Homo sapiens: one gene and its partners. The protein of the gene in region 4 purifies or fractionates together with the protein of the main gene of each other region. This does not show direct contact. Each region holds a gene or a part of one and is shown on either strand. Other genes may lie near its edges.

What was found.
Region 1: the proteins of NFKBIL1 (region 4) and ZRANB2 purify together in Homo sapiens (affinity purification with mass spectrometry; 3 studies listed by BioGRID and IntAct, with this or other methods). This does not show direct contact.
Region 2: the proteins of NFKBIL1 (region 4) and LUC7L purify together in Homo sapiens (affinity purification with mass spectrometry; 4 studies listed by BioGRID and IntAct, with this or other methods). This does not show direct contact.
Region 3: the proteins of NFKBIL1 (region 4) and PNN purify together in Homo sapiens (affinity purification with mass spectrometry; 2 studies listed by BioGRID and IntAct, with this or other methods). This does not show direct contact.

What each region holds. Positions count from the first base shown.
Region 1 is NC_000001.11:71,064,036-71,071,078, reverse strand, and holds part of ZRANB2 (zinc finger Ran-binding domain-containing protein 2), read left to right. Parts: intron 1-82; coding exon 83-252; intron 253-1,716; coding exon 1,717-1,803; intron 1,804-3,362; exon of another isoform or gene 3,363-3,448; intron 3,449-3,894; exon of another isoform or gene 3,895-4,144; coding exon 4,145-4,303; exon of another isoform or gene 4,304-4,313; intron 4,314-5,326; coding exon of another isoform or gene 5,327-5,360; exon of another isoform or gene 5,361-5,941; coding exon 5,942-6,005; 3' UTR 6,006-7,043. UniProt on the Homo sapiens protein: Splice factor required for alternative splicing of TRA2B/SFRS10 transcripts. Binds to ssRNA containing the consensus sequence 5'-AGGUAA-3'. May interfere with constitutive 5'-splice site selection.
Region 2 is NC_000016.10:188,490-191,492, reverse strand, and holds the end of LUC7L (putative RNA-binding protein Luc7-like 1), read left to right. Parts: intron 1-922; coding exon 923-952; intron 953-1,357; coding exon 1,358-1,525; coding exon of another isoform or gene 1,526-1,529; exon of another isoform or gene 1,530-2,153; coding exon 2,154-2,295; 3' UTR 2,296-2,503; downstream 2,504-3,003. UniProt on the Homo sapiens protein: May bind to RNA via its Arg/Ser-rich domain.
Region 3 is NC_000014.9:39,178,243-39,183,752, reverse strand, and holds the end of PNN (pinin), read right to left. Parts: intron 4,663-5,510; coding exon 4,507-4,662; intron 4,430-4,506; coding exon 4,291-4,429; intron 3,251-4,290; coding exon 1,890-3,250; 3' UTR 533-1,889; downstream 1-532. UniProt on the Homo sapiens protein: Transcriptional activator binding to the E-box 1 core sequence of the E-cadherin promoter gene; the core-binding sequence is 5'CAGGTG-3'. Capable of reversing CTBP1-mediated transcription repression.
Region 4 is NC_000006.12:31,550,571-31,557,613, forward strand, and holds part of NFKBIL1 (NF-kappa-B inhibitor-like protein 1), read left to right. Parts: intron 1-7,043. UniProt on the Homo sapiens protein: Involved in the regulation of innate immune response. Acts as negative regulator of Toll-like receptor and interferon-regulatory factor (IRF) signaling pathways.

The DNA of each region.
Region 1 (7,043 bases), on a different chromosome or scaffold from region 4:
GCTCAGTACACCTAACTGTTTTATCTTTCCTGGTAGGTAACACTAATATCTAAATGTCTAATTATAATTGAATTTTTGTTAGGATGAGGATGAAGATGACGCTGATCTCTCAAAATATAATCTTGATGCCAGTGAAGAAGAAGATAGTAATAAAAAGAAATCTAATAGACGAAGTCGCTCAAAGTCTCGATCTTCACATTCACGATCTTCATCACGCTCATCCTCCCCCTCAAGTTCAAGGTCTAGGTCCAGGTAAACGGGTACAGGTCAAGGGTAACACCAGTCAAAATGTCAGTATCTAACTTTTTTATTTATAAATTTTGTTTTTCTTGACGAAATAAACTTTCCTTTTTATTTTAAAAATTTAATTCAAATCAACTTTTAAAATAATTTTTCAGCTTAGTACCATACAGTTGTTGTCCAGTATTTTTAGAAAAGTAAAGTCTTAGCATGAAACTTCCTTAACCTATTTTAGCCTCATGCTTTTGACTAAAATAGACTTAAAAACTGAATTAAATTTTTATATACACTTATATTTAATTAATCTAAAGAGATAGCTTACATATAGAAATTAAGTAAAGGGGAGATCTGTATTTTCATTCAAGATGTTAAAGGCTAGCACAGAAATTTTCTAGGCATTAAATCATTGCTTATTACATAATGTTTTTAATAGTTTGCTTTGATATCAGTATTGTGAATAACGGAGCAAATTCAGCCATATTAGTTCTGTTGACTTCATGCTCATAATTTTGAGAAGTCCAGGCGTAAACTAAAACTCTTTTGGTGTACTTGAATATTGTTTGTTGATGTAAAATATGTAATCTCTGATTTTATAGTTAACAATAAAAATAAAATTTTAGGTGAGTGAAAGCAGTGATTTAAATTTAACAGTGTCCTCTTGAAAAACCTTAATCACAGTTAAGTGATGGCATGGGCAATGAATTTTAATCATATTTAGGAATAAAATACTAGATATTAGTGTATAACAATTAGATATATGTTAATTGAGCACTACAAAGCCTGAAAGCTTAACAAAGTGGGGCTATAACTAGTAATTTTTTGGTAAAAATATAGTGATCTTTTTCTACAGGGTATTATTATAAGGGACAAATTATAGTTGTAAATTAGATTAATGAATTTTGTGAGTTTTAAAATTTGTACGAACCATGTCTCCCTTGTGTCATATTTTCCAATAATATAATTACCTAACAATGACAGAATTATACATTTTCCCTTTAATTCTCTAAGCATTGAGTAAACAGAAAAATATAGGGATGAAATACACACATGCCAACATTCAAAACTTTGTACTAACTAGAAACAAAAATAGAAGGGGATTTATAAAGGAAAATGATGGAGACATTTTAGAGAAATTAAGTATAAATCGCAACATTCTGTTTTCTTGGATGTATTCTGGGTAGCTTCTAGTTACTTGTAAACAAAGTATTCATTGTTTTTGTAATAAAGTGATAATGTTTTGTTTTATAGTTGAGTGGCTTTAGGGTAATTTAATCACCTGGAAAGTGATATTTTTTTAATTACCTTTTGTTACTAAATCTTATCTAATTTAAAATACTATGTTTTGAAAGTATATATCTTGTATAGTTATCTTTTTATATGAAAATGAACTCTAATACATATCTTTCTTTCAGTGTTCATATCACAAAGCTCAATTAAATGGTCCTGGAAAAAAAAAATCGTTCCATGTTGTTCCAGGTCCCGTTCAAGAAGTTCTTCCAGTTCGCAGTCAAGATCTCGTTCCAGTTCCAGAGAACGTTCGAGATCTCGTGGGTCGAAATCAAGGTGAATGAGGTAGCATCTCTCTGTAAAGCAGAGAGAAAAATATTTAAAGGCTGCAGAAGGTGTTGCTGCTTTTTTTCCCCTTATTTTGCTTCTACTTGTCGATTTTATTTTAGCATTAGAAAACTAATGCACTTGCCTCAGCTTAATTTTCTCACCATGAAATGTTTCCATTGCCAGCAGTGTGCCAAGACATTCCCATGATTGAAATCAGGTGGCTATTTTGCAATATGCAGCGTTTATTATTTTGGCACTAAGATGTTATGAAGTAGGAAGATGAAGCCAAGTCTTATCGCCACATCTCTAGTATATTAAGATTATATATGGCCAGGCACAGTGATTCATGCCTATAATCCCAGCACTTTGGGAAGCTGAGGTGGGAGGATCACTTGAGGCCAGGAGTTCAAGGTTGTAGTGAACCTTGATCACAGCACTGTAATCCAGCCTGGGTGACAGAGGAGTGTCTCAAAAAAAAAAAAAATTAATAGTAGTTCAAATAAAATTACATATGTAAATAAAAAGAAAAATTTTCTTCATTATTAAAAGGAAGAAAAATAACCCTGCCTCAAAACAGGTCCTGTTTTGCACGGCAGTTGTTTCAATATTTTCAGAAACAAATTTGCCATTTATATCAGATAAAGTTACTAGAGTACTGTATATACATTTTCCTTTCTAATTTTACACACGCTATTATTTATAGAGCACAAAACACTCAAAACTAAATCAGGAAGTATAGTCGGTTAGTTGAGATAGGATGTGGTCTTAAGTAGTAAACAGTGTTCTAAAGTTTCAGGTTGCATGTAGTCACATCTGTAGAGGGAAACATAATTTGAAAGATGCTCTTGCAGGAAATTTTTCTTTGTTTAGTCAAAATATGCTCTCTTTGTTTTTAAGTTAATTTATTATGACCTAAAGGCATCTAAAAAATAAATAAGAAAATGAAATTCCATATTTGTGGAAATTCATATTGAAGTCTAACTGTGGCTGTTTTGGTAAAAGTATTTGCTGCTTTGAATCAAATTTAGCATTAAAGGGCTGCCACAGTATAATCATGTTAAGGAGAAAAGAATGTTGTGCACACTTGCATTATAAGCCAATAAGAAATAGATAACAAGGCCAGGCTCAGTGGCTCACGCCTGTAATCCCAATACCTTGGGAGGCCAAGGTGGGCGGGCTGCTTGAGCCCAGGAGTTCAAGACCAGCCTGGGCAATATAGTGAGACCTCGTCTACTAAAAATAAAAATTAAAACAACCAGCCAGGCATGGTGGTGTGTTCTTATAGGCTGAGGTGGAAGGATCACTGGAGCCCTGGAGATTAAGGGTGCAGTGAGCCATGCTTATGCTACTGCACCACAGCCTGGGGAACAGAGCAAGATCCTGTCTCAAAAAAAAAAAAAAAAATAGAAGTAGAGAGCAAATTATTTTTTATTGTTACCATTATTTAGTAACAATATTTAAGCGCTTTATAGGTAAAAATCCTTAAGTTCTGGTATTCCCTTTGGGAACCATTATAATTAAGGTTTACAGAACACCCATCATATTCTTCCCAAACATTTTTTCATTGCTTGTAACTTTCCAAAGAATTCTCCTTTTGGGCTTTCTGGTTTTATTTTAAGCCCAAAGGTGAATTTTTTGGGAAGTTTGAGCTAAATTCCTTCAACCAAAATATACAAGTGAAGAAAAAAAATTTGTATTTAAACATTTGCACATTTACTTCTACCTGAAGCATGTGAATGTCAACACTTCATATTTCATAAGTAGTGGGTTTTCATAAAAATAGTATTGTAAATATAAATCATCTTAAAGTTAGTTTTTATTTCTTCTTGAATATTTAGCAGTTAAGTACAGTTACTAGTCTTTTGTTGCTGTGCCATATACCTGGTTTTTCCATAACAGTTTAATGAGTTGAATAATTCCACATGGAATTATGTTTATTTTCCTCAGGAAGTGGTATATAAGATACATATTTTAATCCTCAAATGGAAGGATGTAGTTCCTAAACGTAAAGTCCTGTTAATGCAGTTATCTGCTGATTTTATAATACTATAATATTTGTGTATACTTTGAAAAGCCTTAAAAAAAGTTTAAATTCTATTTTGATATAGTAAGCAGGGTTTTAATTACACATGATAGAATTTTAAAGAGACAAAATTAAAATGTTTAAGTAGAATGTTTTCATGGTTGATCCAGAAGTCTTCTGTTGAATAAGCAGTAAGTATTCTTCCTTATAAAATTTTCATAGTTGTTATAAATCCTGTTTATTTTTGGAGCTATCTGATAACTAAATAATCTTCCTTATTTCTTCTTTTAATGAAATGTTTGATTTGTTTCTCAATCAATGAAGATCCAGCTCCAGGTCCCACAGGGGCTCTTCTTCCCCACGAAAAAGATCTTATTCAAGTTCATCATCTTCTCCTGAGAGGAACAGAAAGAGAAGTCGTTCTAGATCTTCTTCATCTGGTGATCGCAAAAAAAGACGAACAAGATCACGGTCACCCGAAAGGTTTGGGTTTCTGTAGAAATAAGAATGGGTGTTCTTAAGTGTGTTTAATAGATAAAGTAAACTTTCCTAGTCAAGGGTTAGATTTTTATTATCTCTTGTGTTCCGACTTTCTACTTTTCAACTTTGAACTTCAAAAAAACATTACTTTGCTTATCCTTTGTACTTTGATCAGGTTGTTTAGAATTGTAGATCAAACCATTCTTTGATCATTTTATTGTTTAAATTTTTAGTTCCATTTATAATTTTTATAGCCAACTCTCGGTTATTTCTGTCTTTTGAGATTGCAATTCAGAAGCTGTATGTCGAAGTAATTTATGAGTTGACTTTTATACTTAGGCTTCTTTAAATACTAATAGTCAAGAATTCTAGAGCATCTAATAAAAAATTAACTTTCAGATCATTGGGAATCTGTCCTCATTTAAATATGTGTAAATGCATTTCCACAGCAAATTGCTTCATGCCCTTTGTCTATAAGGAAATTATTCCTTGTAGCTAATACATTTTTCATTTTGCAGTCCAAATCTTTTTTGAGAAAGGCCTATATTAGGTTACTTTATCTGTACTGACACTTTTAATATTGGAAGAATGCAACTGTCATCTGTCAGCCTTTTCTGCAACAGGCTAATTACTCAGTTTCATTAATTTTCTCTTTGTTCCCAATTATATAGTCATTTTAATGGCTTTATTTGTAGTCTTTGCAAATTTTTCATATTTTATTAGCTTGTGAAAATAAAGATTATGTAAAGTCTATTAATTGCTGGGTTCAGTGGTAGGATTATCTCATGATTCCTACTTGTACAGAATGATTAGTTTTGCTTCTTCACATTTTGGAGTTTAGATGTTAAGATTTCACACAGTCTTGTTTCTCTGCATTTGTTTCTTTGTAAAAAAAATTACTCTGTTTTTGAGTGGAATTCATTCTGTTGCTTTCTTACCACTTCTGCAAATTTTTATCTTAGCCACATATAATCCCCCTAGTTTGTTGTCATCTAAACTTAATGAACATGTTCTCTATTCCATAAGCCAGGTGATTGGTGAAAACACTAAACAACCCTGAGCCCAGGGCCAACCCCTACGGAACACCACTACTTTACCCAGGTTGATATTGACTTATTCATACTAGCTGCATGAATATAACCCTATAGCAAATTGTACAATCATCTTGTGTGACCTAGATTTCCAAAACTTATTTATGAGTATATTTTCTCATACACAGAAGCCTTGCTGTATCTTTTTTACATAATAGACTTCTTACACTTTCTACACCGTGTCACAGGGATTGGTTTAGTCACACTTCCATTACCAAGTTTATATGCTTTTGTTGTACATTTTCTGTAATTTTACACATTTTTGCAAGGCTTTTCTTTGATATCTTAAATAATTGAGAGGTGGCTATATTTTGAAATGAGATTCTTTTGAAATTGTAGAGAATTTTTTATTGTATTTATATGATAACTGGGCTCATATCCAAAGTCTAAACATCAGATAATTTTATGTGTGTAAGTTCCTATCTCAATTTTTAATTTTTTTGCTAGCATCATGGTACTGAATTTTGTATACTTTCACAGTCTTAAGAATGAATGCTGAGATTTAGCTCTAGCTTACTAGAATGCCTACTCTCTCCATTATGTCTTACAGACGCCACAGGTCATCATCTGGATCATCCCATTCTGGTTCCCGTTCAAGTTCAAAAAAGAAATAATGTATTAAAATTTACATCTTAAAAAAATCCAGTACAGTGCATGAAGCATATTTTTAAAGAAGTTGGTGTCTTACTTGGTCAGAAGTGCTAAATCTGCTAGTAGAGGTGCATGCCTTTCATTGCTTTTCAAAACAATACAGCTGTGTTTATTTGTGAAGTTAAAAGTAAATAGCATTTTAAGCCATAATGTCCCAAAATAGATGTTCTGTCATTCATTATTTACAACCATTTGCTTCATTTAAAACCATTTCAGCTATAACAAAGTACTTTGCTTCCTAATTTAAACCCATTTTTGTCATTTCCAAATACATCCTGTCCATTGGCTAAGACAGGATTACCTAGGCTTGCCTGAACTTTGGGCATGGAAGAAAGACTGGAAACTAGTTGGAAACAACATACTTATGGAAAAGAAAGTCAGCCTTTTTATGCTGTTAACAGATGTCAGAGTGATTCTCACCAAAAAAAGTTAAACTATGTTGTAAGCAGCCAACTGTAAATGTCTATTTTGAAATTCCCTATGCTAAGGGTGCCTTAGAATCATTGTGTCTCTTTTATCCAGCTTTACTTTTTTGCTCCACATTTAATGCAAAAGAATCTTGTGATGTCTACAAGGAGAGAAGTGGGATATATTTTCCTTTCTGACACATAATTTGGGGCAAAAAAGAAAGTCTTAAGAGTTTATCTTTTCTCTGCTGATACGGTTGCTTGATAAAGACATCTCAAAATGTTTACCAATGTTTTAAGAAGCTTTGTGTGATATTCTTCCAAATGTAGTTACCAAATATAATATGGTAGAAAAGGCTAAATCATACTTAATGAGCAAATTGAAGTAAGCTTTTAAAGTATATTTCTCTTTTGGTGAAAGGCCAATGGAGACATTGTGAATTTAAGTGAACATTTGCCTCAAGATGTTAACTATAAACACACTGCATACAATTTTCTTCTGAATAACAAATGAATGCTTATTGCTGCATGATGTAAGCAAAAGTCATTATTTTTCCTATTCATTTGAAATAAGTTATGGCTTAAAATGCTTTT
Region 2 (3,003 bases), on a different chromosome or scaffold from region 4:
AACACACAATCCATTTTTTGCATGGAGTTTACATTTTTACATGCACTGTCATGTTTAGGCCATTTGTGTTGCGGATGTACATGGGGCCACTTGACCTTAATGGCTTACGGGCATAGAATGAGGCCTCATAGCTTGCCTTTTTCAGCCTCTTGGTTGTGTGGCAGAATGAGCTGATGACTCTCACCTGACAGGAAGCCTGTGCCTGGAACTTCGGGCTTTGCTTTTCCTTTTCTGTGTTTTTGGTGTGCCCCACTCGCTGTCTGCACATTCTGTGCTGGTGTCTGTTGTAAAGACTGGAGAATCATTTGTAGGACTTGAGTGCAGCACAGTCAGTGTGCACAGACTTTTCACGGCCCTTGTAATGTTACAGGGCTGCGTCTGATGCTCGGATGTGGGCCTGTCTGTGAGGCTCAGGTGACACTGAGTGTGCCACAGAGTGGCTGTGGGGATGGGAGCATTGGCACTTCCCATTCAGACTGGGAACATGCAGGCAGCTTGAAAACAGCAGGTCTTTGGGGGAGGTGCCTCACTTCTTAAATTTGGAGTCCTCCCCCAAGAGGGTGAGGAATAGGGGTGCTTTCGGGAAGTCATTCACTTTTTTTTTTTCTTTTTGAGACAAAGTTTTATTCTTGTTGCCCAGGCTGGAGTGCAGTGGCACAATCTCAGCTCACTGCAACCTCTGCCTCCTAGGTTAAAGTGATTTTCCTGCCTCAGTCTCCTGAGTAGCTGGGATTACAGGCACCCGCCACCACGCCTGGCCAGGTTTTGTGTTCTCAGTAGAGACGGGGTTTCACCACGTTGTCCAGGCTGGTCTCCAGCTCGTGACCTCAGGTGATTGCCTGCCTAGGCCTCCCCGAAGTGCTGGGATTACAGGTGTGAGCCACCATGCCTGGCCTTGTTCATCTTTTTTTCCCCCTTTTAGGTCGGGATCAAGAACCAGAGATCGCAGGAGGTAGGTTTCCAGGTCCATTAAAATGTTCTCAAATTTTTTTTTCCATAAGCATTTTTCTTAATATTTAATGATTATGCCTTTACAAATGTTACCTGGCAGGTAGGGCTGGCTTGTGAAGGGCACAGGGCAAGAGGTTGCTTGGTGCCGTGGAGGGTTCCCAGTGTTAATGAGAGGGAAGGTCGGGGCCTGCAGGGTGACAGGAGTATCCAGGCCACATGTTTTCAGGAGACCTCATTGGAAGGACCTAGCCATTGGAGATTAACTGATGGAAATATTTTAAACCTAAATTTGTGGGAGTAAAGGAGAAAATGTCAGTAAAGCAGCAAGCAGAATCTGCTGAGGGGTGGGGCCCTCATAGTGTTGGCACCTATAGAGTCTCAGCCTTGGAGCCTTCTGATTGTTCAGGTCACGCTCCCGGGATCGGCGTCGGAGGCGGTCAAGATCTACCTCCCGAGAGCGACGGAAATTGTCCCGGTCCCGGTCCCGAGATAGACATCGGCGCCACCGCAGCCGTTCCCGGAGCCACAGCCGGGGACATCGTCGGGCTTCCCGGGACCGAAGTGCGAAATACAAGTAACTACTCTGACTCCTTCGGTAGCTGCAACCAGGAGTGAGCCCTTCTCTGTGTTCCCAGGGTCTGCTGAGGGCCGTGTCTGGTGGGGATGGGGCTGGGCTCACCCTCAGGAGTAGGGCTGGGGAGTCGTGAACGGGACTCAGGTGTGGGAAGAGGCGAGAGGGCTGTGGAGGAGCTCGCACGGCGCCAGGTGATGGGCTGCACAGGCACTGTCCCCTGCCTGCGTCCTGGGGCCTGTGCACTGTTGCGTCCATGCTCAGAGTGGCTGAGACTTGTGTCCTGACCAGGCCCTGCTTACCTCTGTTTTGGTTTTTGTTTTTGATATTTTTTTTTCCATTGTGTTTTTACGTAGTGTCATGTTCTGTGCATATAGTGTTGTATTCTCCTTTGCACTGTTTATGTTACAGTGAAGGCTCTCCTTATTAAAAATCTTCGCAAAGGTCACTTTTTAATGGCTATCTAACACTCCATATGTGGTGGGCAAGTCTGGTTGGCCTCCGGGGGGTTTCCAGGTATAGGGGATGTAGGGCCTTGCCTGGCCTGGTCTGCGGGTCCATCGTCAGTGCCTGAGCGGCCAGCAGAAGGGGGGCAGCAGCCTCCACTGAGCCTCTGGTTCCCATTTCCCAGGTTCTCCAGAGAGCGGGCATCCAGAGAGGAGTCCTGGGAGAGCGGGCGGAGCGAGCGAGGGCCCCCGGACTGGAGGCTTGAGAGCTCCAACGGGAAGATGGCTTCACGGAGGTCAGAAGAGAAGGAGGCCGGCGAGATCTGAACCCGTCTCCCGGGTGCTGTAAATAGTCTGATAAACGTTCACACAGTCTAAAATTACCCTTTATATTTGCTGAATACAACTCATCTTTTGTAGTTTAAAATTTCTATTGTTTTGGAGCTAGCTGTGAGTTTCTAGAAGTGTACAGAGTTGCTCCTGTGTTCCCGGGTCATGTTGAGTAGGAATAAATAAATCTGATGCTGCCTCCTGAGGCTGCGGGGGGTTTCTGCTGTCCTCTGCGTAGAGGCTTTTCACTGTGACCCTGTGCCAGTGCCACCAGCACCTCACAGAAACCGTGACTTACTCGTGGGTCACGTCTTGTCTTCTGGCATCCAGTAGATGGCAGGGCACTTCCTGTCCCCTGCATCTGACTGACGGGACCCAGGTGTGCATGGGTGTTTGTTTGCTCGCTCCCACACAACCTTCTGAGTGTCTGAGCTGCCCATCTCCCATGGGGAGGAGGGAGGGGTCCCCATTCTGCATTCATTTATTTAGGAAAAGCTGTCTTGTCTGCTCAGCTGCTACCATAGCCTTAACTTGGGACTCAGGTGAGTTACACTGCATGTCCCCTTTTGAAGTTACTAGCAGAAAACAAAGACCCATGGGGCTGGGCATGGTGACACATGCCTGTAGTCCCAGCTACTACTAAGAAGGCTGAGGCAGGAGGATCTGTTGAGCACAGGACACTGAGGCAAACCTTGATTCCGCCAC
Region 3 (5,510 bases), on a different chromosome or scaffold from region 4:
TGTGCCACTGCACTCCAGCCTGGGTGACAGACTAAGACCCTGTCTCCGAGAAAAAAAAAAAAAAAAAAAAAGATTAAAATGGCCCCTGCACAAGGATGACATGCAAATTCATCAAGCATTCCATATAAGAAAAATTCCTTTCACATACTATGATCAGTAGCGCTTAACTGAAATTACTGAAAATTACTTTCCCCTCAAGCATTCATTATACCCCCATTACTACCCCTCCTATAGTAGAGCTTCAAGCCAATACTAGCCTTTTCTGTAAGCAACATGAATATTGTTCAGATTTTCCAGGTACAAATCAGTAGACAAAACTTAATTTGTATAAAGGATTTTAGTGCATACAAACTGTCATCAAATAAGGTGCTTTTTAACCAGGTTAAATTTTATGATCATCCCTTTAATTCACTATTTACCAACCTCTTTCCTGCCAGGGCACACAGGAAATGAAACATTTTGCTGGATAAGCCACAGATGAAGGTACTAGTGGTGGAACTGGCTCATGGATACAGATTGCTGTGCAAAGCTCTATGCATTTACTGTTTTAATAATTACTCCAATAAAAGGATTTTTAAAAAGAGATCTTTTAACACATCCACTTACACAAGTGAGTTATATACACACAAAAACTAACTGGAAATACTTCTTCACATTTTCACTGTAACCATTTACTTGTCAAGGGAAGGCAAAATGAATATTCAAAGTCAAGGCTAAAGCTACAGTGTTAAACTCAAAGAAGGATGCAATTTAAGTGCTCTCTTGTATAAAGCATCAGAAAGTTAATACAAGTACTAGTCTTAAGCAGTCACACAAGTCTAAGCCACATTTATTTGCACATGTATAGTAATGGCCAACAGATACTCCAAGTTCATACAAATTTGTAAAACAACAAAGTTAATAATCACTTGGTACACTTGTGTGTTATCTTGCTTACATATTAAAACCTAGATGAACTTCCTTCATTTTGTGGACTTCCATACAATACTTCCTTAAACAAAATTCTTGAAAACACATATCAGCATGTTTAAGTTAGAGCCAACACAAAGTTAAGACAAGACACAAACTCAAAAACCAAGTTTGAAAGATACTTTTCTACCTCCCTCCCCTAGAAAGAAGTGATTTTCTTTAACAGATGTATGTTATATCACACAAGTAACCATGAAGACAAAAGAATGACGCTCCCATCATCAGGAAGAAAATGCCAACCAGATCATACTGTTTAGTTATCTACCGAACATATGGTTAAAATATGAGAAACGGGGGAAAATGCTTAGATTAAAATAACAAGGGAGAATAGAAAATAGCAAATGATTTTAAAGAGAACTGTTCCCCCTCAAAGCTGCAAAGCTCTGACTCTGACAACTAAAAACTGTCCAAGGCAAATAAAAACGAGGAAACCTTCAAAAACATTCTAATCACGTGCAGTATCTAGTGTTAAAAGCTGAAAATGATAAAGAGGATATTTATTATACAAGTGTCAACGAGGACATCCCAAAAATAATGAAATAAACACACATTTATTTCTACAAAAGCAATGTATGATACAGAATTAGAAGGGAACAGACTTAAAGATTTGCCTATTAAAATATACAGATTCTTACTGAAGAGTATAGGATATTTAAAAAAGATGACAAGGGATGTTAATCTTTTTTTATTATTATCATTTTTACATATTTTGGAACCTCACATAATTTTGATAAATAACTCTTACAAAATTATGCAAAAAGTACAAGAATGTCTGGTAAACAAACAGTCTGTATTTTCCAAAAAGATTTTTTACAACATGCAATTCTTAAGGCAGCATCCTCTTTACAAGGAAAGGTAATCCTTTTTTATCAAGAAATCTTCTGCTGCAAAGAATGGCTAAGAAAGCCTGGCTTCTTCCATTAACGCCTTTTGTCTTTCCTGTCTGATTTTCGGTCTCTTTCACTTCTTGAAGATCTTTTGCCTGATCGACTACTCTCTGATATAGACCTCTTTCTGTCGGACCGGGAATTCTTATCCTTTGATCCTTTTGTATCTCTACTACTACCACCTTTTGAAGATTTGTGACTTCTTTCTAGTCCTGAAGTATCCCTTCTCTTCCGATCCACGCTCCTTCTGTGCTTTCTATCTCTATTATGTCCCCGGCCCCTACTCCGACTTCTACTCTCACTACTACTACTAGTGCTACTGCTACTATCTCTGCTGCTGCTGCCACTTGTACTGGAGCTGCTACTGGAACTACTGCGACTGCTACTACTTCCACTGCTGGAACTACTTCCACTGCTGCTACTGGTTGAACTGCTACTAGAACTGCTACTGCTACTGCTTCGACTTCTACTCTTGCTTGTTTTATTTCTAGCTCGACCTCTACTTCTGCTCCTAGTTTTGGTTTTGCTCTTGCTCTCTGGATGTACTGTCAAGACTGGCTCTACTGGTACCTCAGTGAGTTTTACAGACTCTACAGGAAAATCCTTCCTCTCAGGTAGTAAATGCCCTTGCTCCTGAGTAACTTGGGGTGTTGGCTGTAAAACAGCTAATGACAAATCCTCAGGCTGAGAGGGAGGCTGGGACTGGAGTACTGGTTGGGACTGGGATTGAAGCTGAAGCTGGGGCTGAGACTGAGGCTGAGGTTGAGCCACAGGCTCAGGTTGGGGCTCAGATTCTTTTTCTTCTTTTTCCTCAGACTCCTTTTCCATGTCTAAAGCACTGACATTCTCTTTCCCAGGAGAAAGGGTTTTACATTCTTTATCTGGCTCAATTTCAAATTCCATTTCTGGTTCCAATTCTTTGCTAGCTTCATTTTCTGAAGGTTCTACACTTTCAACTCGATTAGTTTCCATTACCTCCTGGTCAGCAATTACATGTTTGACATTCTCAACCATCTCTAGCACATCCATAACTTCTTCAGGCTGACTATCCTGCTGCTTCTCACTTTCCCTTACCTCAGTTTCCTCCTCCATCTTAACCTCCATTTCCTGTTTTTGTTCTTCCTCCTCCTGTTCTTTCTCTGCATCACTATGAACAATCGCTATTTCCTTTTCCTCTTCCTCTCCTGCTTCCTCTATTTCTACATCATTGTGCTGATTACCTGTCTCCTCCAACTCTTCCTCTCGCTGAGCCACCTTACCCTCTTCTTGTTCCGCCTTCTGTTCTTCATTACGCACCACCTGATGCTCTTTTTCCTTCATTGATTGTCTTCTAGGCCTAGCCTCCATTTTATTTATTTGTTCTGCAAATTCGATGCGTCTACCTTCAAATAAAGCTAAAGAATAAAAATTTACATGTGTAAAATTTACCGATTAAGAAAATTCAAAGCCATAATTTTATAACTGGTCACAAATTGTCATTAAGCTTCATCTGAATTTGTTTTTGTAAAGTTATGACAAAAGATTATGGCAATTAAGTAACCACAAACTGACATAAAATTATAAAAGCAAAGATCCATGGGAAATCTACATACTAGAAATTGTGGCAGACAGAACTACACATTTTCTAACTGATGAAGAAAACAGATCAATCTTTATGTCTGATGAAAAATAAAACTTCTGTAAAACAGAACCAGTTTTGGCATAAAATCATATATATTAATTTTTCTGATCCCAAAGAGATAAATCATCATCTTAGCAGTGTCTATCCTTCCATGTGTTTTCCATCTAGAAACTGAGTTGGTTTTCACATTTGTCTTATTAGCATTTTATCAGAACAATAATAGCATGCAAAAAAAAGTAATTTTACACAAATGCTTAAGGAATACAGATGCATAAGCACTGTCTATAACTTTCACATTAAACTCCATCATGATACAAATATTCCTATACTACAAACTCACCAGCATCTCAGAATGTATCTTTTTTTTTTTTTTTGAGATGGAGTCTAGCTCTGTTGCCCAGGCTGGAGTTCAGTGGCGTAATCTCGGCTCACTGCAACTTCTGCCTCCCAGGTTCAAGTGATTCTCCTGCCTCAGCCTGCCAAGTAGCTGGAATTACAGGTGCCCACCACCATGCCCAGCTAATTTTTTTTGTATTTTTAGTAGAGACTAGAGACGGGGTTTCACCATGTTAGCCGGGATGGTCTCGATCTCCTGACCTCATGATCTGCCTGCCTCAGCCTCCCAAAGTGCTGGGATTACAGGCGTGAGCCACCACGCCCGGCCTAGAATATCTTATTATCTTATTTAAAAAAAAAAAGCAAACACAGCAAACCAATCACTGAATCATAATTATTTTAGAAAACAAACGTGTGCATATGAACATATTACCTTACCCACTATGAACAATTCAATGGACCTCTTCGCATACTTACCGTTCATTTTTCTCTGTGACTCTTCTATTAGTTTTTGGGTAGCTGGACACATTCTTCCAGGAATATAAAACAAATGGGGCTTTGTCTTAGTTCTTATATATTTAATTATTTTGGCATTATGTTCATTCCATTCTTCTTGCTAAAGAAAAGGTAAAGGGTCAGTGCTTTTGTAAACACAAAGGATTACCAATCTTAGAATTCCAAATTACCACTCACCAGCTGCGCAAGCTCAACTTTCTGTTCCAAAAGCCGCAGTTCTGTCTGTTTAGCACGCCTCTCTTCAAACAGTTCTCTCCTTTCATTTTCAACCTGCTTTCTCTCTTCTTCTGCCTGAACTTCAAGTTTTTGTTCAATTTCCTGGCGCCGCTTTTGCTAAAAGTTAAGTAGCCTGCTTTAATACTTACGTGTTGAAATAGTTACAACAAAAGGTATATATGATTTCAGTTCAATTATGATAAAAAGTTATTACACATACTAATTACGTGAAACATTAGAGGCAGGTAGATCATCTGAAGTCAGAAGCCAACACCACCATCTCTACTAAAAACACAAAAAAATTAACAGGGCGTGGTTGCACGCACCTATAATCCCAGCTACTTGGGAGGCCGAAGCAGGAGAAATCACTTGAACCCCAGAGGCGGAGGTTGCAGTGAGCTGAGATCACGCCACTACACTCCAGCCTGAGCAAGAAGAGCCAAACTCCATCTCAAAAAAAATTTTTTTTTTTTTTTTTTTTTTCACTATGTAAAGGTATCTGCAGGCCGGGCACAGTGGCTCACACCTGTCATCCCAGCACTCTGGGAGGCTGAGGTGGGTGGATTGCTTTGAGCTCAGACCAGCCTGGGCAACATGATAAAACCCCATCTCTACAAAAAAAAAGAAAAAGAAAAAAAAAAGGTATCTGCATATGCTTCACATTTTTTCTTTTTTTGAGATGGAGTTTTGCGCCTGTTGCCCAGGCTGGGGTACAATAGTGTGATCTTGGCTCATTGCAACCTCACCTCCAGGGTTCAAGTGATTCTCTTGCCTCCGCCTCCCAAATAGCTGGGGATTACAGGCGCATGCCACCACAGGCGGCTAATTTTGTATTTTTAGTAAAGACAGGGTTTCACCATGTTGGCCAGGCTGGTCTCGAAAAACTTCTGACCTCAGGTGATCCACCTGCCTCAGCCTCCCAAAGTGCTGGGATTACAGGCATGAGCCACTGCACCTGGCCGCTT
Region 4 (7,043 bases):
AAGAGCGGATTACCCCGAAGCAGACCTGCATCCAGACCCCAGCTCTGCCATCAACAGGGACATGCAGCTTACCTCTGTGAGCCCAATTTGCCTCGCAAAAATGGGAGTTTTGTTTTTTGTTTTGTTTTGTTTTTTTGAGATGGAGTTTCCCTGTTGTTGCCCAGGCTAGAGTGCAATGGCGCGATTTCAGCCCACCTCAACCTCTGCCTCCTGGGTTCAAGAGATTCTCCTGCCTCAGCCTCCCAAGTAGCTGGGATTACAGGCATGCACCATCACGCCCGGCTAATTTTGTATTTTTGGTAGAGACGGTTTCTCCGTGTTGGTCAGGCTGGTCTCAAACTCCCGACCTCAGGTGACCTGCCAGCCTAGCCTCCCAAAGTGCTGGGATTACAGGCGTGAGCCACCGCGCTCAGCCAAAATGCCCCTGATAGTGTGGTAGGGATTTCCTTTATTGTTTGTTTGCTTGTTTGTTTTGAGACAGGGTCTCATTCTGTCTCCCAGCCTGGAGTGCAGTGGTGCAATCATGGCTCACTGCAGCCTCTACCTCGTGGGCTCAAGCAGTCCTCCCACCTCAGCCTCCCTAGTAGCTGGGACTACAAGCACACACCACCATGCCCAGCTAATTGTTTGTATTTTTGGTAGAGACTGTTTTGCTATGTTATCCAGGCTGTTCTGCATCTCCTGAGTTCAAACAGTCTGCCCACCTCGGCTTCCCAAAGTGCCGGGACTAGAGGCGTGAGCCACCACACCCAACTCCATTGTATTGAATTTTAAGAAGCTGGTGAGACTGATATTATCCCATTTACAGATGAGGAAAGCAGGGCCCAAAAGGTTCGGGAACTTGTCTGAAATCTCACAGCTCTCAGGTCATTGTCTTCCAAAGGGGGACCCAAGCTCAGTGCCTTCACTCCCAGACCCTGGTGTCCTCTCTGGCCTTATTTACTCCTGGTCCTCTGCCAGCCCTGCCACCAGATGGCCTTCTAACTCCTTGGTTGAAAGGCCCATCTCATTCAGCTTCCAGCTTCCTTTTTCTTTTCCTTTTGAGACGGAGTCTTGCTTTGTCGCCCAGGCTGGAGTGCAGTGGCATGATCTCGGCTCACTATAACTTCTGCTTCCTGGGTTCAAGCGATTCTCCTGCTTCAGCCTCCCAAGTAGCTGAGATTACAGGCACACACCACCATGCCCAGCTAATTTTTTTATTTTTATTTATTAATTTTTAAATTTTTATTTGTTTATTTATTTTTGAGACGGAGTCTCCCTCTGTTCCCCAGGCTGGAGTGCAGTGGCAGTATCTTGACTCACTGCCACCTCCGCCTCCTGGGTTCAAGTGATTCTCCTTCCTCAGCCTCCTGAGTAGCCGGGACTACAGGAGCCTGCCACCATGCCCGACTAACTTTTGTATTTTTAATAGAGATGGGGTTTCACCATGTTGGCCAGACTGCTCTCGAACTCCTGACCTTAGATGATCCACCTGCCTCGGCCTCCCAAAGTGCTGGGATTACAGGCATGAGCCACCATGCCCGACCTAATTTTTGTGTTTTTAGTAGAGATGGGGTTTCAACATGTTGGCCAGGCTGGTCTCAAACTCCTGACCTCAAGTGATCCACCCACCTCAGCCTCCCAAAATGTTGGGATTATAGGCATGAGCCACCGTGCCCATCCCACAGAATGTCTTTTGGTTTTGTTTTTGTTTTCTGTTTTGTTTTGTTTTGTTTTGTTTGAAAAGGAGTCTCATTCTGTCGCCCAGGCTGGAGTGCAGTGGCACAATCTCGGCTCACTGCAACCTCCACCTCCCAGGTTCAAGAGATTCTCCTGCCTCAGCCTCCCAAGTAGCTGGGACTATAGGCGTAGGGACTGTAGGCGTATGCCACCACGCCTGGCTAATTTTTTGTATTTTTAGTAGACACGGGGTTTCACCATGTTAGCCAGGATGGTCTCGATCTCTTGACCTTGTGATCTGCTCACCTCAGCCTCCCAAAGTGTTGGGATTACAGGCGTGAGCCACAGCGCCTGGCCAAAATGTTTTTATGTTTATTTTTCTTAGTATGAAACTCCAGCGTATTAAAGAGCATTGAGAACGGTTGATCTGGTAAATCGCTATAAAGGCGGCATTTCTTTTTTTTTTTTTTTTTTTTTTTTTTTGGCGAAGTGGGGGATGGAGTCTCATTCTGTCGCCCAAGCTGGAGTGCAGTAGTGTGATCTCGGCTCACTGCAAGCTCCGCTTCCCAGGTTCAAGCCATTCTCCTGCCTCAGCCTCCCAAGTAGCTGGGATTACAGGCGCCCGCCACCACGCCCAGCTAATTTTTTGTATTTTTAGTAGAGACAGGGTTTCACTGTGTTGGCCAGGCTGGTCTCGAACTCCTGACCTCATGATCCGCCCGCCTCGGCCTCCCAAAATGCTGGGATTAGAGGCGTGAGCCACCGCGCCAGGCCTAAAGGGGGCATTTCTAATACTGGAGAAAGGTGAACTTTTTTTTTTTTTTTTTTCCGAGACAGAGTCTCGCTGTGTCACCCAGGCTGGAGTGCAATGGCGCAATCTCAGCTTGCTACAACCTCCGCCTCCCGGGTTCAAGCAATTCTCCTGCCTCAGCCTCCTGAGTAGCTGGGCACCTGCCATCATGCCCAGCTAATTTTTGTATTTTTGTAGAGATGGGGGTTTCACCGTGTTGGCCAGGCTGGTCTTAAACTCCTGTCCTGACCTGAGGTGATCCACCCACCTCAGCTTCCCAAAGTGCTGGGATTACAGGCATGAGCCACTGTGCCTGACCAGGTGAACTATTTTATAAATAATATTGGAACATTTGGCTCATCTAGGGAAAAACAAGAGTCCCACCTCACACCTAATCAAAAAGTAAATTCCAGCAGATTAAATACCTGAATATGACAGGAAGGTACACACCAAATTCATGGGACAGATGGCCTGGGGAGGAATGAAACTTGGAAGGCGGTATCACGGTAAACTACCTTTATCTGTGATGATTTTATTTCCTTAAAATAAATTATACTACAAACATGACAGTACATTAACAAACCCTGTGGTAGGAATGGGGTTGTGTATTGTATTATACTTTGTATTTTTGAGAGTTTTTTAATTTCTTTTTTGTTGTTGTTGAGACAGAGTCTCACTCTGTCACCCAGGCTGGAGTCCAGTCGCGCAATCTTGGCTCACTGCAACCTCTGCCTCCCGGGTTCAAGCAGTTCTCTGCCTCAGCCTCCCAAGTAGCTGGGATTACAGGCATCCGCCACCACGTCAGGCTAATTTTTGTATTTTTAGTGGAGACGGGGTTTCACCATCTTGGCCAGACTGGTCTTGAACTCCTGACCTCATGATCCACCCACCTTGGGCTCCCAGAGTGCTGGGATTACAGGCATGAGCCACCGCGCCTGGCCGAGTTTTTTAATTTCTAAAAATAAAAATGAGTATACATCTAAAGTAGTAGAAGAAAATGCAGAGAATGTTTTATAATCTTAAAATAGAGCCTTCCTAAGAGTGAAGTGAAATAAAAAGTCAGAAAATAATATATTGATATAGATTTAACTACATGAAAATTTTAGGCCGGGTGCGATAGCTCACACCTGTAATCCCACACTTTGGGATGCCAAGGTAGGCAGATCACTTGAGCCAGGAGTTCAAGACCAGCCTGAACAACACAGTGAGACCTGGTCTGTACAAAAAATACAAAATTAGCCAGGCGTGGTGGTACGTGGCTGTCGTCCTGTAGTCCCAGTTACTCAGGAGGCTGAGGTGGGAGGATCGCTTGAGCCCAGGTGGGGCAGAGTTTGCAGTGAGCAAGATCATGCCACCGCACTGCAGCCTGGGCAACAGGGTGAGACCTTGTCTCAAAAAGAAAAAAAAAGCTTTTTTAAAGATAGATAGAAGAAAATGTTTGCAATATGTATAACACATACAGTATATAGAACCCTCATATCAATATATATAATTTCCAAAGAAAAAGTGGATAAAGAATATGAGCAATTCATTCACAAAAAATACAAATAGCCAAAAGACATGAAAAAGAAAAAAACATTGTTAATAAAATAATTTTTTAATCTATCCAACTGGCAAAATTAAAAGGGTTGATGATATTCAATTTTGGTAAAGGAAGACATAGGCACACTTGTATATTGGCACAAACTTATTGAGAGCAGTTTGACCAAATTGCGCATGTCCTTTGACTCAGAAATTCCACTTATGAAAATCTACCCCCACAGAAAGACTGTAAGATACTCATGAGGCTGAACATTTTTTGAAACAAAGTCTATCGATATTGGGGTAAGGAGATTTGTTTTGTACACACAGTGGAACACTAATTATAAAGTCGTCAAAAAGTATGAGGTAGACTGTATATATTCCTGTGGAAAAATATAAATGAGATGTTAAATGAAAGAAGCAAGTTGCCAAGCAATATTTGTAGTATGGTTACATATCTCCAAATAAATGTGTCATATGTATGCTTTTAGGTACACCAAGGTGGGACTGGAAGGGATCACAGTACACTGTTAATAGTTATCAAATTTGTTCGTCCTTCTTTAAAAAGAAAATTTCAACTTAATTATATCCCTTTCACATTAAAATGTCAAATAAAATTGGGGGAAAAGCCACCTACAGCCCCACCACCCATAGGCTAGAATTTTTACATATTTTTTGCCAGTCTATTTTTTTTCTTTTTTTTTTTTTTTTTTTGAGATGGGAGTCTCCCTCTGTTGCCCAGGCTGGAGTGCACTGGCATGATCTCAGCTCACTGCAACCTCTGCCTTCCAGGTTCAAGTGATTCTCCTGACTCAGCCTCCCAAGTAGCTGGGATTACAGGCACATGCTACCACGCCTGGCTAATTTTTGTATTTTTAGTAGAGACAGGATTTCACCATGTTGGCCAGGCTGGTCTCGAACTCCTGACCTCAGGTGATCCACCCGCCTCAGCCTCCCAAAGTGCTGGGATTACAGGCCATGAGCCACCACGCCCGGCCTCTTTTTTTCCAACCATAGGATTTGGTCTCTTGTTTTAGACAGTTATTATCTGATCCTCTCTCTCTCTCTCTTTTTTTTTTTTTTTTTTTTTTTTGAGATAGAGTCTCACCCTGTCACCCAGGCTGGAATGCAGAGGCGCGATCTCGGCTCACTGCAACCTCCGCCTCCCAGGTTCAAGCAGTTCTCTGCCTCAACCTCCCAAGTAGCTGGGATTACAGGCGTCAGCCACCACGCCTGGCTAATTTTATATATAATATAAAATATAATTATATATATATTTTGTTTGTTTGTTTTAGTAAAGACGGGTTTTCACCATCTTGGCCAGGCTGGTATTGAACTCCTGACCTTGTGATCCATTGTCCCCCCCCCCCAGCCTCCCAAAGTGCTGGGATTACAGGCGTGAGCCACCGTGCCTGGCCACATCTGATCCTCTCTACAGTTTTGTAGCCAGCTTTTTTCAAACACATGCCTCAGTTGTAGTGGCTGTTTAATATTATGTTTTTATAGTTGGAGGCCCTACTCCTTAAAACCTATGAATGTAAACCTCCCATGCAAGCCTGAGCACTCACCATGCTCACCACCTGAGCTCAGGTGGGGAACAAGCGAATGAGAGACAGGACCAGGTACTTTCTGGGTGGGACAAGTTGAGAGGGTCTGTGACAGGTCACAGCAGCACTAGGGAGAAGTGCCCCCCCCCACCAACCCTGATGTGATTTGGGTAGGGATGGTGGGCCTTCGCCAGCCACACCTGGGCCATTCTGTCTTCTTGCCTTCCTGGCCTTGCCTTCCCCTATTCCAGCTTTCTGCCAGGTAAACAGTACTTTCCAGCACTACCAAATAAAGATTTAAGGACTGCTAGCCCATTTCCTCTTACCCCGGGGAAAGAAAGTAGGTCCACAGGAAGGAAGGCTGCCTCCCTCCCCTTCTTCTATCCCCCAAGTGAAAGAGGTGGTTGGTGGCCACAGCAGGTGGGCCTGGCCAGGATGCCTGGGTTGGCAGTGAAGGAAGTAGCATGGCACTCAGCTAACCTTGGGCCAGATGCAGCAAGGTTGGGACTGAAGAAAAGGGGAGTTCAGGAACGTCGGTTCCTCTCCTGTTTTCTCTCAGCCCATGGGTGAGACCCTCTGTCACACTCCACTCCCTTTCCCCTGCCCTAGGTCAGCAGTCATTTGGAAAGAGCTTGCTCTGCCGCCGGCCATAGTTGTTGCCGGTTCACCTCCCCACCCCTCTCCCATCATCCCCTGGTAAGGCTGGCTGAGAGAAATTCCCCTGAAAACATTTATTTTACTCAGTTTATTGATAAGTGATAATAAAAGATAAGTATTACATATTTGTGTATTTATTAATGGCCCAGAGTAGAGCATTCAGATATTTTCCCAGTCTGATATATGGTTTCAGGTGAGAAAATAAGGGATTTATATAGTGACAATATTTTTAAGTGAAAAGTGGAATACATAGTCAAAGAATTTGGGCACTGCCTTGGTGGCTGGAGGCAGGTCAGAAAATGTCAGTTGGCATGGTAGAACTTCTAGGACGCTGAAATAGTTTGTGGAGACACAAGTAAGAATTTTTTTTTTTTTTTTTTTGAGACGGAGTCTTGCTCTGTCACCTAGGCTGGAGTGCAGTGGCACGATCTCGGCTTACTACAAGCTCCACCTCCCGGGTTCACATCATTCTCCTGCCTCAGCCTGCCGAGTAGCTGGGACTGCAGGCGCCCGCCACCAGGCCTGGCTAATTTTTTGTATTTTTTAGTAGAGATGGGATTTCACCATGTTAGCCAGGATGGTCTTGATCTCCTGACCTCGTGATCCGCCCGCCTCGGACTCCCAAAGTGCTGGGATTACAGGCGTGAGCCACCGCGCCTGGCCGAGAATATTTTAAACTACCACACTTACCATGCATGTGGTAAACTATCAGTCTGTATTTATCAGTGATGGTTATTTCCTAATACCCAGGAGGCATCCATGTGAGCCACCCTTCCATTGCTTTAAGACCAAGGGAGCGAGTGACCAGCAGGATTCAAGATGGCAGCTCTGCCGAGGAGTGGGAGTCCCAGCTAACTTCTGCTCCCTGC